Linked DNA regions of Homo sapiens. The protein of the gene in region 2 interacts with the protein of the main gene of each other region in a pairwise test. Each region holds a gene or a part of one and is shown on either strand. Other genes may lie near its edges.

Evidence for each region.
Region 1: the proteins of MUC15 (region 2) and SH3GLB1 interact in binary tests that used the Homo sapiens proteins (3 or more experiments, as listed by UniProt).
Region 3: the proteins of MUC15 (region 2) and LAMP2 interact in binary tests that used the Homo sapiens proteins (3 or more experiments, as listed by UniProt).

What each region holds. Positions count from the first base shown.
Region 1 is NC_000001.11:86,714,576-86,718,333, reverse strand, and holds part of SH3GLB1 (endophilin-B1), read right to left. Parts: intron 2,611-3,758; coding exon 2,469-2,610; intron 1-2,468. UniProt on the Homo sapiens protein: May be required for normal outer mitochondrial membrane dynamics. Required for coatomer-mediated retrograde transport in certain cells. May recruit other proteins to membranes with high curvature. May promote membrane fusion.
Region 2 is NC_000011.10:26,565,536-26,569,293, forward strand, and holds part of MUC15 (mucin-15), read right to left. Parts: intron 1,605-3,758; 5' UTR 1,560-1,604; coding exon 1,517-1,559; intron 362-1,516; coding exon 1-361. UniProt on the Homo sapiens protein: May play a role in the cell adhesion to the extracellular matrix.
Region 3 is NC_000023.11:120,427,539-120,431,296, forward strand, and holds part of LAMP2 (lysosome-associated membrane glycoprotein 2 isoform A precursor), read right to left. Parts: 3' UTR 1,089-3,758; coding exon of another isoform or gene 946-1,088; 3' UTR 1-945. UniProt on the Homo sapiens protein: Lysosomal membrane glycoprotein which plays an important role in lysosome biogenesis, lysosomal pH regulation and autophagy.

The DNA.
Region 1 (3,758 bases), on a different chromosome or scaffold from region 2:
TGGTACATGCCTGTAATCCCAGCACTTTGGGAGGCCAAGGCAGGTAGACCACTTGATGTCAGGAGTTTGAGACCAGCCTGGCTGACATGGTGAAACCCCGTCTCTACTAAAAAAAAAAATACAAAAATTAGCTAGGTGTGGTAGCGCATGCCTGTAATCCCAACTACTCGGGAAGCTGAGGCAGGACAATCACTTGAACCCAGGAGGCAGATCTTGCAGTAAGCAGAGATTGTGCCACTGCACTCCAGCCCAGGTGAAAGAGTGAGACTCTGTCTCAAAAAAAAAAAAAAACAGCTTTGTGTTTTGACTCTGATTCTTAATTTTGACTGCTTTTCCACCTATCTGGCCAAAAGTTTAAAATGGAATCTTATGCTGACTTCGTTCAGTTAATAAAATATTTGGAATACTAATAAATGTTTAATTTCAATAGGTTATAATAAAATCTTAAATATGCAGGCAACTCTGCTACAATGTAATATGTATTTCTGCATAACGTATTTTTGAAAAACCCATTTCCAGAAGATCATACATTGAAAACAACATAGGAATTACAAGAAAAGGAGTGTTAGGTTTGGCTGCTCAAAACCTATGTAACTTAATAACCAGAGCACAGGCTGGGCATGGTGGCTCACACGTGTAATCCCAGCGCTTTGGGAGGCTGAGGCGGGCAGATTACCTGAGGTCGGGAGTTCGAGACCAGCCTGGCCAACATGGAGAAACCCTGTCTCTACTAAAAATACAAAAATTAGCCGGGTATGGTGGTGGACACCTGTAATCCCAGCTACTCTCAGCAGGCAGAGGCAGGAAAATCGCTTGAACCCAGGAGGTGGAGGTTGCAGTGAACCAAGATCACACCACTGCACTCCAGCCTGGGTGACACAGCAAGACTCTGTCTCAAACAAAACAAAACAAAACAAAACAAAAAAACCACAGCACAAACAAAAAACAAAAACAATTATTACGACTTCCTGGCACAAAACAGGGGCAGGAGGAAATTGTATTTTATTTCCCTGTTTACCAGTTGTGAATGAGCTTATTTCCCATTCAGAAAAATATGTTTAGAACAAGGGGAAAAATGTCTATTACTTTTAATAAAAGTGCCAGAGTGTAGAATTTAAATGGCCTTAAATGAATAAAAAATATTACATGGTGTCCAAAGACATTAGGACTCACTCAAAGTGCAAAAAGCTTATTTTATTTCCAACTTTTATTTTAGTTCAAGGAGTACACATGCAGATTTGCTACCTGGGTATACTGAATGATGCTGAAGTTTGGGGTACACATGAACCTGTTACCCAGGTACTGAGCACAGAACTCAACAGTTAAGTTTTTCAACCAAAAGGTGTATTTAAAAAGTCACTACTATTTAACTAAAATGATAGAGAACTGCTAATATTTATATAGTGCTTGAAGTTTAAGTTAGTATCTAAAAGTAAGCATATGTCATATCACAACTTGGTCCCAAACAAGTTGGGGAAAAAAGAAGGAAAGCATACATTGTACCTTTGTTCTTCAGTTTTGATATGCAAAGCTCACAGTGAAAAGACTGGATGTTCATACACCCGGTTCTAGTCCAATTTCCACTTCTAATTAGCTATGCTACATTTGACAAGATGCTAACTCATGAGTTTCATTCACTAAACAATTATGCACCTTAACTGCAAGATTATTGAGTTGACTTATCTGAAAATCTCATAGTTGTCTGAAGATGAAATGAAATAATTTATGTGAAAATGTAAAACTTAAACATAGGCGGGGCGCAGTGGCTTATGGCTGTCATCCCAGTACTTTGGGAGGCCGAGGCAGGTGGATCACGAGGTCAGGAGTTCGAGACTAGGCTGGACAACATGGTGAAACCCTATCTCTACTAAAGACACACACACAAAAAAAAATTAGCTGGGCGTGGTGGCACATGCCTGTAATCCCAGCTACTTGGGAGGCTGAGGCAGAAGAATTGCTTCAACCTGGGAGGTGGAGGTTGCAGTGAGCCAAGATCACACCATTGCACTCCAGCATGGGCGACAGGGCGAGACTCTGTCTCAAAAAACAAACAAACAAACAAACAAACAAACAAAAAAACACACCAAAAACTTAAACATAAAAAATGGTACCTACTTAAGCAACTATATAACTTTGTCTTAATTATCTAGGGACAATTCTTCCCTAGATGAAAAAGGAAAACATATTTATATACACAGCTGCTCATAAATTAAAATTCAAAGTCACTGCCTAAAATTGAGATTTTTTACAAGGATTCTATAAAAGACTGAAAAATATCATTTTAAAATTGGTTAGGTACATAGCTGTTTATCACTTCCTCTTCACAAAAGCACACACAAAAAAACCCACTGACCTTGAAGCTACAATAAAAAAATCCTATGTTTTCAGATGGCCATTAAAACTTTTTTTTTTAACATTTAAAAACCCACTAATAGTACTTAAGGTACACAAGAGGTAGAGTTTCTTACTTGGATTTGGCTGCAATAACACTTCAGTTTGTTTCATTATTTTTTCTGTCCATATTTTGGTACATTCAGCTTTGCTAAGGAGGTTCTCTAAGTGAGCATCCAATTCTGTCTTCTCAGCCTGGCCAAGCTTTTCTTCTGTGAACTGTTATTGATTGTAAAACAAAAATTAAATATACTGCAAATAAATTTTAGGGAACCATATCAATAAGTAAAAAGCAAATTCAAAGCTAAACAATCCTAAACATACAAATAACCATGCTCCAGCTTTGTAAGCCATTGCTTATGAATACTTTTTTTTGCTCCTATGGTAATTTATCCATACTTCTTTTGTGGATGACCCTACCTTACAGTCATCACATACCCTTAGTTCTGCTAAAATGTATGGTGTGAATTCTACAGAAAACCTAAGTATACTTCTTGGTATATAAAGCATGCAACTATTTCAACTACCTATCCTAGGTAGACTAGGATAACGGTAAAGAGTAAGAGCTTTGAGTCAGTTGAATCTGAATTCAAATCTTAACTTTGTTCCTTGCTGTGTGAGCTGAGCAATGTATTGAATATTTTTTCTTTAGTACCCTCTATTATAAAAGAGAGACAATACATATTTTATAGTGTTTGGGGGATTAAGTATGATTGTGTATGCAAATCACTTTGTTTGGTGCCTTGTAATTATTAAGTTTTGAAAGAGCTGTTAATGTTTATTGTGGTTTATGTCTTATTAGCACTTTAATCACACCTAGTTAGATAAATAGTTTCCCAGAACATACCATAAAACCTGTCATTTAAGCTGCTGAGGATATGTTCCAGCAATTTATTTATAGACTAACTTTTGGAACATATCCTATTCATACTATGAAGACATCTTTTAAAGGTCATAAAATGTGGTTAAACGTACTCAATGAATCAATTTTTATTATTGAATATACTGGTATTTGAGAAAAGGTAGCACTGCCTATATAATAATAAAGCAGTAAAAAGATTCTGTGTAGATCTACAGCCTTCTGGATACTTTTAATTAAACATTAGAGGTGATGACTCAAGCTGTTTATCATGCATCATTTTCCTCTAGAATATGTGGCTTCCTCCCATCTTAACACAGGTATATCACTAGCATTAATTCTGTGCTCAGTAATGACTCACTTCTGGCTGACAAAACAGTGTTCACCTTGCCTTTCTCTCCTTTCGTTTCTCAAAAATCTCGTTTGCTACTCTATTTTCTGAGTTTTATTGTTTCTTTCAGCATCCTTCTTCTTGGTTTAATACTTTCAGGTTATTATCAACACCTTA
Region 2 (3,758 bases):
GTGGAAATGGTAGATGTGGGTTTTAGACTGCCCAAAGAATGCTCTGCTGATGAGTTACTGGAGAAATCTGTTATTCCGTGGCTGTTGTTGGGTAGATTCAAAGGAGGGGAATGACTCGCCTTGAGATTTGAGGTGGTTATATTTTCTTTATCTGAGTTTAAGTTTGCTTCACTTTCCAAAGAAATAGGTTTATTTTCCATTGTTTTAAAAACTTCTGCAATGTTCTGTGTTGTGTTTATGTCTTGATTTTCTTTTCCATGGCTCCCCGATAGAAGTGAATAAAACAACGTTGAAATCAACAGAATTTTGGCTAAGGCCAACATTGTAGGCTTCTTTGGTATTGGTTTTTTTTTAAAGGAATCTGAAAGAAAATAACCATAATTTGAATTCCTTAAATAAAATACTCTGAGTTTTTAAATGGATCTATATATTTTAAAGTGATAAAAATCTAGACATAATATAGAGATGGTAATATCATATTTTTATTCCAAAATTGCTTATTTTGGATTATGTACTTAAATTAGTGCCATTGAGTACTGCTTTCCACGTAATCTTTCTTCCTTCCTTGCTTCTAGGGAAATGCCATGCAAAAACTTCCTCAAGCCACACACTGCTATTTCAAAGACCATTTAGCTTGGGAAAAGGTGGAAGAAAACCATAAAAACCCACCCACTCACACATACACGTATATTTAAAACATGTATATGAACTGTTAAATAACATTTTAAAAATATTGTAAATATAGACCATGTAGAGCTGGCTGATTTCTTCAATCTATTTAAGAAAACGCATTCTTTATAAAGATGTCATTTGAAATATTTATTATGAAAATGACATTACTGACTATACATTAAATGCACCATATATTAGATTTTTTTAAAGTGAGTCAGTCAGGAATACCCTTGAATACATTTTATTAGTATCTAGTTTGAATTAATACTAGTCATGAAATAACTCATGAATTTGAATGTATCCCTTTTCCACAATACTTTTCATTTCATGATGTCCTTCTTGCTACTTAATCCCAAACTGGGGAGATTCAGAAGCCTTCTAGATTTAAGGATATTCTTTAATCTTACTCTCTTATTTTATAAAAGAAGAATATGGTTGGGGTGTGTGTGGGAAAATAAGCTAGATAATTGCAGATTGGGTCCTGATCTCCAATCCAGGCACATCATTCCGCCTCTTAAGTGTGGAAGTGCCACAATTCATAAATAGGGTGATATAGGAAAATGTTTTGAAATCAGATTTATATTAAAATTCTGGCTTCTGACACAAATAACTCATGAAAAATAATCACCATAATAAGCAGTTGCTTTATCATCATTATAATTAACTTCAGAGTGTTGTTCTGAAGACTGAATGGGCTGACTTAGGTAGCAGCACTCTAAACAAGATCTAGCCTAAAGTAAACACTTAATAGATGCTAACCTCCATTTAATATTCAAATATAATAATATATCTATAGTGTCTTTTTGGTTACAAAGTTTACAGTATCATCTTATTTGATACTTACAACAATCCCTTGATGTGGCAAGAATAGATTGTATTATGCCCATTTTGCAGATGAAGAAACTGAAGCTCACAATGGCTAGTAACAGAAGCTGGAAAATGGAAGAGGCAATATTTAAAGCCAAGTCAACTGACTCCAATCTCATTAGAGGCTAAAATTTGCAGTGCTTTTAATGGAAAATTTACTTTAAAAAAATAGACTTTTTTTTCCTCAAGCAATAAAATCTGAGTACTGATTTCATGTTTTTGAATTGAACCTTATTTTTCACTGAAAGCCTCCATGCTGACTGAGAGAGGAAAAGGGAGGAGGTACAAGTGCTGTTACTTAGTTCTTGTATTGTGTGCCATTTCTCAACAGCTCTCTGAAATTTTTACAAATATTTTCAGCCTTGTTGATTTTTCATTAGGGTCTACAGAGCTTCTAAACACTCCCACTAGTTATGTGTTGATTTTAAATAGCAAGTCCTCTCTTACATAATAATTTCTCACATGTGGTACAACGTAAATATATCTATAATATATGTTAGTTATCTTCAAAATCTGATACTTCTCTTCAAAAGCTTTTAGCAAGCAATTGCATAATCATATACTTCTAGAATTTTAGACATATTGTATCTTCCATGCCCTATGGTTATCACTTAAGAAAAATCTACTTAAAAATAAAAGCTGGCAGACATATGAGAACATTCATAGCGGCATTATTTATAAGAGCCTCAAACCTAAGTGTTCATTAGTAACAGATTGGATAATAAACTGTGGTATATTCAGATAGTGAAAATTGACAGGCTAGAGCTGTATGCAACGACATGGATGATTATCACAAACATAATGCACTGCTTGAAACACCAGTTGTATTGTGTGATTTCATGTATATAAAGTTCAAAAACAGGCAAAAAGCTACAATGATACGATTGGGAAAGGGCTTTATTACTGGAAGTAAACAGAATTGATTGGGTGGAGCATGGAAGGAGGTTGTGTGCTGGTGATACTCTATTTCTCAACCTGATTGTGATTACATAGGTGTTTGTATTTGTGATCATTCTGCTTATTGATATTTCATTCACTTTTCTGTGACAACTAAGAAATTCAGATTGTTCTAAAAATGTTTAACATAATTGGAAAGTATATTACTATTATGCATTTGATATATCAGCTGCTTTACATATTTTCCATTTAATGCTAACCAAAAATAAACAAATGGTGAAGAAGGGCTTATTAATCCCACTTTACAGATGATTAAGTGGGACATAAATAATGTAAGTAATGTGTCCAAGGACACACAGCTAGTAACTGAGAGATCGGATTTGGATTCAAACCTTGACATGTCTGATTTAAAGCTAGTCAGTATTCATGTTTGTAACATAAGTTGCAAAGGAATATAGAATTTGGTACACAGCTGCTTTTTAGAACTTCTTCCTACCATAGTTTTTTTTTTTAATACAGCCTCTCCAAATTTAATTATTTTAACCAGAGCAGTTTATAATCCCATTTTTACAAAACACTGATAATATAAGTCTTTCTATCTTCAAAGGACCCATTAAATACACTAAATATGCTTTTGCTGTAATTTAAGAAAATCACGATAACTGTCTATTATGGTTTCTAGATGGACATCTTTACCATGAAGTTTACAGATTAGCATTTACAAAGCATGAATGATTATCTCTGGCACCTGTAGTTGACCAATATTTACTTAAATTGATGCCTCACCTAGTGTGTTTAAAATATAATTCAGTTTAGTTTAAAAATAGTTATGTGTACCTTTTCAGAAACATCTCTCTCCTGTGAACTCTGCAAAGTTCACAGCAAACATAATGCTCCTTTTCATTATCTACGGCATGTGATCTAATTTGTCAATTGTACTTAGCCACTATTTTCAGCATTATTATGGCATTCGATTTATTTTCTCTATATCTAGTTGTTTTGCTATTTTTCTCTTCCTAATAAAGTGGTCACCAGTGGGGGGAAAAATGTCCTTAGCTGTTCTTCTATTTTTCTTATAATATTATGTGAGAGACATGGCATTGAGCTTTCATTACCTGCCTGTAATGAAAATCTACACATCAAGAGTCAATAAAGTGAATTCTGTTGTTCCTGTTTCACCTTGCCTGTGACATTGAACCACCAAGGGGATCTCTCATTCCTTTACCCAGCTTTTGATTGTAACTTGAAAACCTAGGGTATCAACACCCCCAAACGTGCGAAGCACTCTGTTACTGCCTATAATTTATCTCCCAGGAAAAGGA
Region 3 (3,758 bases), on a different chromosome or scaffold from region 2:
GCACTTGTTGCTGTGAGAAAAAAGAAATCAATATATTAAAAATATCAACTAGAGCATATTCACATAGGGAATGGGAGAGTGCAGGAGGCACACAAACAAAGTATATAGAGTTTTTGTTTTCAGTGCAGGATAAATGAACCTTCTTAACAAGTTAAGGCTCTGAGGGAAAAAAACTTTCTAAACCATAACCTTAATAAACCATAACCCATACAGGTGTTCCAAATCAACACCTTTTTTAAAAAAAGCTGGAGGTCTTACTTCATCCTTCAGTATAAATGTCAAGTCTGAGATAATCAGTATATTCCAAACTCTAGAACAACAACAACAAAAAAAGAAATCTCCTTGTTAAAATATAGTAGCTATTAACAGTAATGAAGAAGACAGCCAAACTTTTGCTATTAAATACAATATCATGAAGCCATTTCTTTCTTAACTAACAGAAAAATACAGATTTAAATAATGCTGATCAGGAGGTGGGGAAAGGAAGTCTTATCATGAACCAAATTTCGTGTCTGCCACCAATGAAAATGAATCCACTATGTTCTTGAATTTATTTCCTGAAGCAAGTTAAATTCTTTAACACCTTTGATTTTGCAAATAACATCAAAGTAGTAAAATATAAGTAACTGTAACATATAAAATTACACATCAGCAAAAATGCTTTCATAATTGGATCCAGGGGCTTAAAATCATTATTTACTTAAAAAATTCTAAGCCACAATTTTTCTTTTAATTATACTTTAACAAAGGAAGAAAAAAAACAGAAAAAAATTGGTCCTAATATATTTTGTCTTAAATAAGTGTACTCATGCCCAAGTTAGCTAGGAACTCACTGAAGTTAGTCTGCATATCTTAAACAATCTATTGCACAGCATGTCCTGGCTTTTAGCCAATGGAAACGTAACTTCTAATTGAAAAAAACAAACAAACACTAGATTTAACTGATTACACAGACTGATAACCAGTACGACTTTTCCTTCTTCCAATCATATAAGAGATAAAGACAACAATTATAAGGAAGCCCAAGGCCACACCCACTGCAACAGGAATAAGAAAGTTGAGGTCAGAGTCAGCAGAACATTCTTCAGCTGTTAGAAAAGAACAGACAGCAAGGAAAGGAAATTAGCAAAGAATGCAATTAAGTAGTAAAAAGCATGCAAGAAACATGCATTTTGAAAGTGTACATAGCTTAGTTTTTTATAGCATTACCTCTATTTTCTTATTTGCTCAATATCTCATTATCACTTTATCTAAAATCACACGAAATTCCTCAGTACGAAAAGCAGAAGGTAAGGGAAGAATGGGAAGGGTCCAAAATAGAGAATTGCGCTTGCCTAATATGGGAAGACTTTAGGTTTGATTATCTAATGACACTGGGTTAAGGAGCCATCATCTACACTTAAAACCACTGCCTGTGTATTTCCCTACTCTCTTTCTCTTCGTCACACCTATAATTAAAGTATAAATAAGAATTCTGTATAAGTAATAAAATTTAAGTTAAAAAAGACTTAGGATCAAGAATGTAGTATATATATACATATATATGTGTGTGTATATATATGTGTATATATATGTATATGTGTATATATATGTGTGTGTGTATATATATGTGTGTGTGTGTACATATATATATATATACACACACACACAATTATTTTTAGCTGAGCGGTGGCCTGGAAGAATAACAGCAGTATCTAATGCGTTGCAGTCCATTCCACCGAACCACCAGGAAAGCAACATGTGCAATGTAGATTTTGAGTTCTGGATTCAGACAGAACTGTGTTTAAATCTTGACTCCTTCCAGTACTAGCCAAAGGACCTTGGGCAAGTTATTTAAACTGGGCCTCACTTTCCTCATCTGTAAGAAGGGGATAATAATACCTATAAGGTATTTGAGGATTAAATACAATTACATTTCTAAAGCATCTGATACACATCAAGAGGTCAACAAGTATTCATTCTCTTCTCTTTTCCTCTTATGCTCATGATCCCATCTGAGGAGGATTAGGTTTTGAAGTAGCAAACAGAGATTAAAATAGAAGTGTTTTGGTATATTACTACTGAAAAAGCCCATATTAGTATTAAAAAAAAAACTTAAGCAAAACATAGTACGGAAGCCCAAAGTGCCCAATTCTGATCTCATAATTTCAAGTGTAAACCAGCTGTTGTTTTACTGTTGAGTGACTAGATTTCATTAGGGGCAATTTTTATCAAAATGCTAGTAATAGTTTTGTTGCCCACTTGATATGGAACCTCAATGAATTTCACTCCCCTTTCTGTAAATAATCGTTAAGGTCCTTTCCAGTAATAGCTAATGAAATTAACAAAATGTGTTATCTGGTGTGATTTATGATTAAGCAATAACTTGTACTTTTCTTCTAATTTTAACTTTTCCTCCTCTTGTACTTTTACCATTCATAAAAATGTTGCTACGGTTCTGAGTACACAACACTCATCTCAGTAACCACACATTAGCCTATGCTGAAAGAATTTACTATATTTTACTGAAAGCTCTCAAAGACTGACAGCTGGGTAACAAGATACACTGTATTGTTAATCAGGAAGTTATAGAGACTCTGATCATGCCCCTATATACATACAATGGGTTAATAATACTTCAATGTGGAAGTCTTCTAGTCTATTAAGCCTTCCTTCTTTATCTATGTTTCATGTCTGTGCTACTCTTATACCATGGAATATGCTTCAACAAGGGCTGATTATCTAGCTCATTTTAATGCCAACAGCTTCTCTTTACACCCCCATCTATGCACTGCCCCACAGGGGCCATCTTGAAGAAACAAGAGCCTAGTTGCTATGCTTCACTGCCTCCCTTCTGAGATTGCTGTTAGCTTACATTTCATAAGTACCACACTGATGACAACACTAAATAGATTTTAATGCTCCAGAGATCAACAAGATGAGGTAGAGAAACACAACACAATCTGTCCTAATTAGTTCATAGAATATTTCTATCTTTCAATACTAATCAGGCATCCAAAGAAGAACAAAACAAGAAACAAAAAAGCAAGTGGCTAAATATGCTTGGATCTTTTCAGTCTATATTGCTGAAAAACAAACAATTATCTTAAAAACTCTAATTACGAAGCCAGTTTAAGTTCTGTTGTAGCCTCTTGGGTCTGTATCATCCCTAGGGAAAAATCACAGGCTTGAGGTACTAACTTCATGCTTAACTTGAACTCAGAGAAATCAGCAAAAGTCACATAACCTTTAAAATGCTGATGGTCCTGAGGACATTCTCTACTTCATTCAACTGAAAACCAAGTTTAAGCATATCTGATGGGCATTTATACCACATCAATATTTATTTAATGAACTTTATGCAAAGGCACATTGATGAGTTTAAATCACTATAGTCCTTATACATTGAAACAGAACACCAGTAGTGAAATGACATTTATTAATTCCATTAAGACACAACTACATATTTTATTCTTATAATGGCCATGTTAATAAGTTCAAGGCATACTTCAAGGTTAGGATCAAAATTTGGCCAGGGCTTCTTAAGATAGACCTTAAAACATTGCACGTTGATGTTCTTTTGAACAAGTTTGTCTCCAGGACCAGTAAATATGACACTTTGGATTTTAAGCTGATTAAAGAGAACAGGTTTTATTAATAAAGACTGATCTCAAAATGCTGGGATTGATAAAAGAATTAAAGTTTCAACATATCAATTTTAAGAAGCAAAGTGTTTCAACAACTGAGAGGTAAGAAAATCTTGTTATTTGCATGTATTT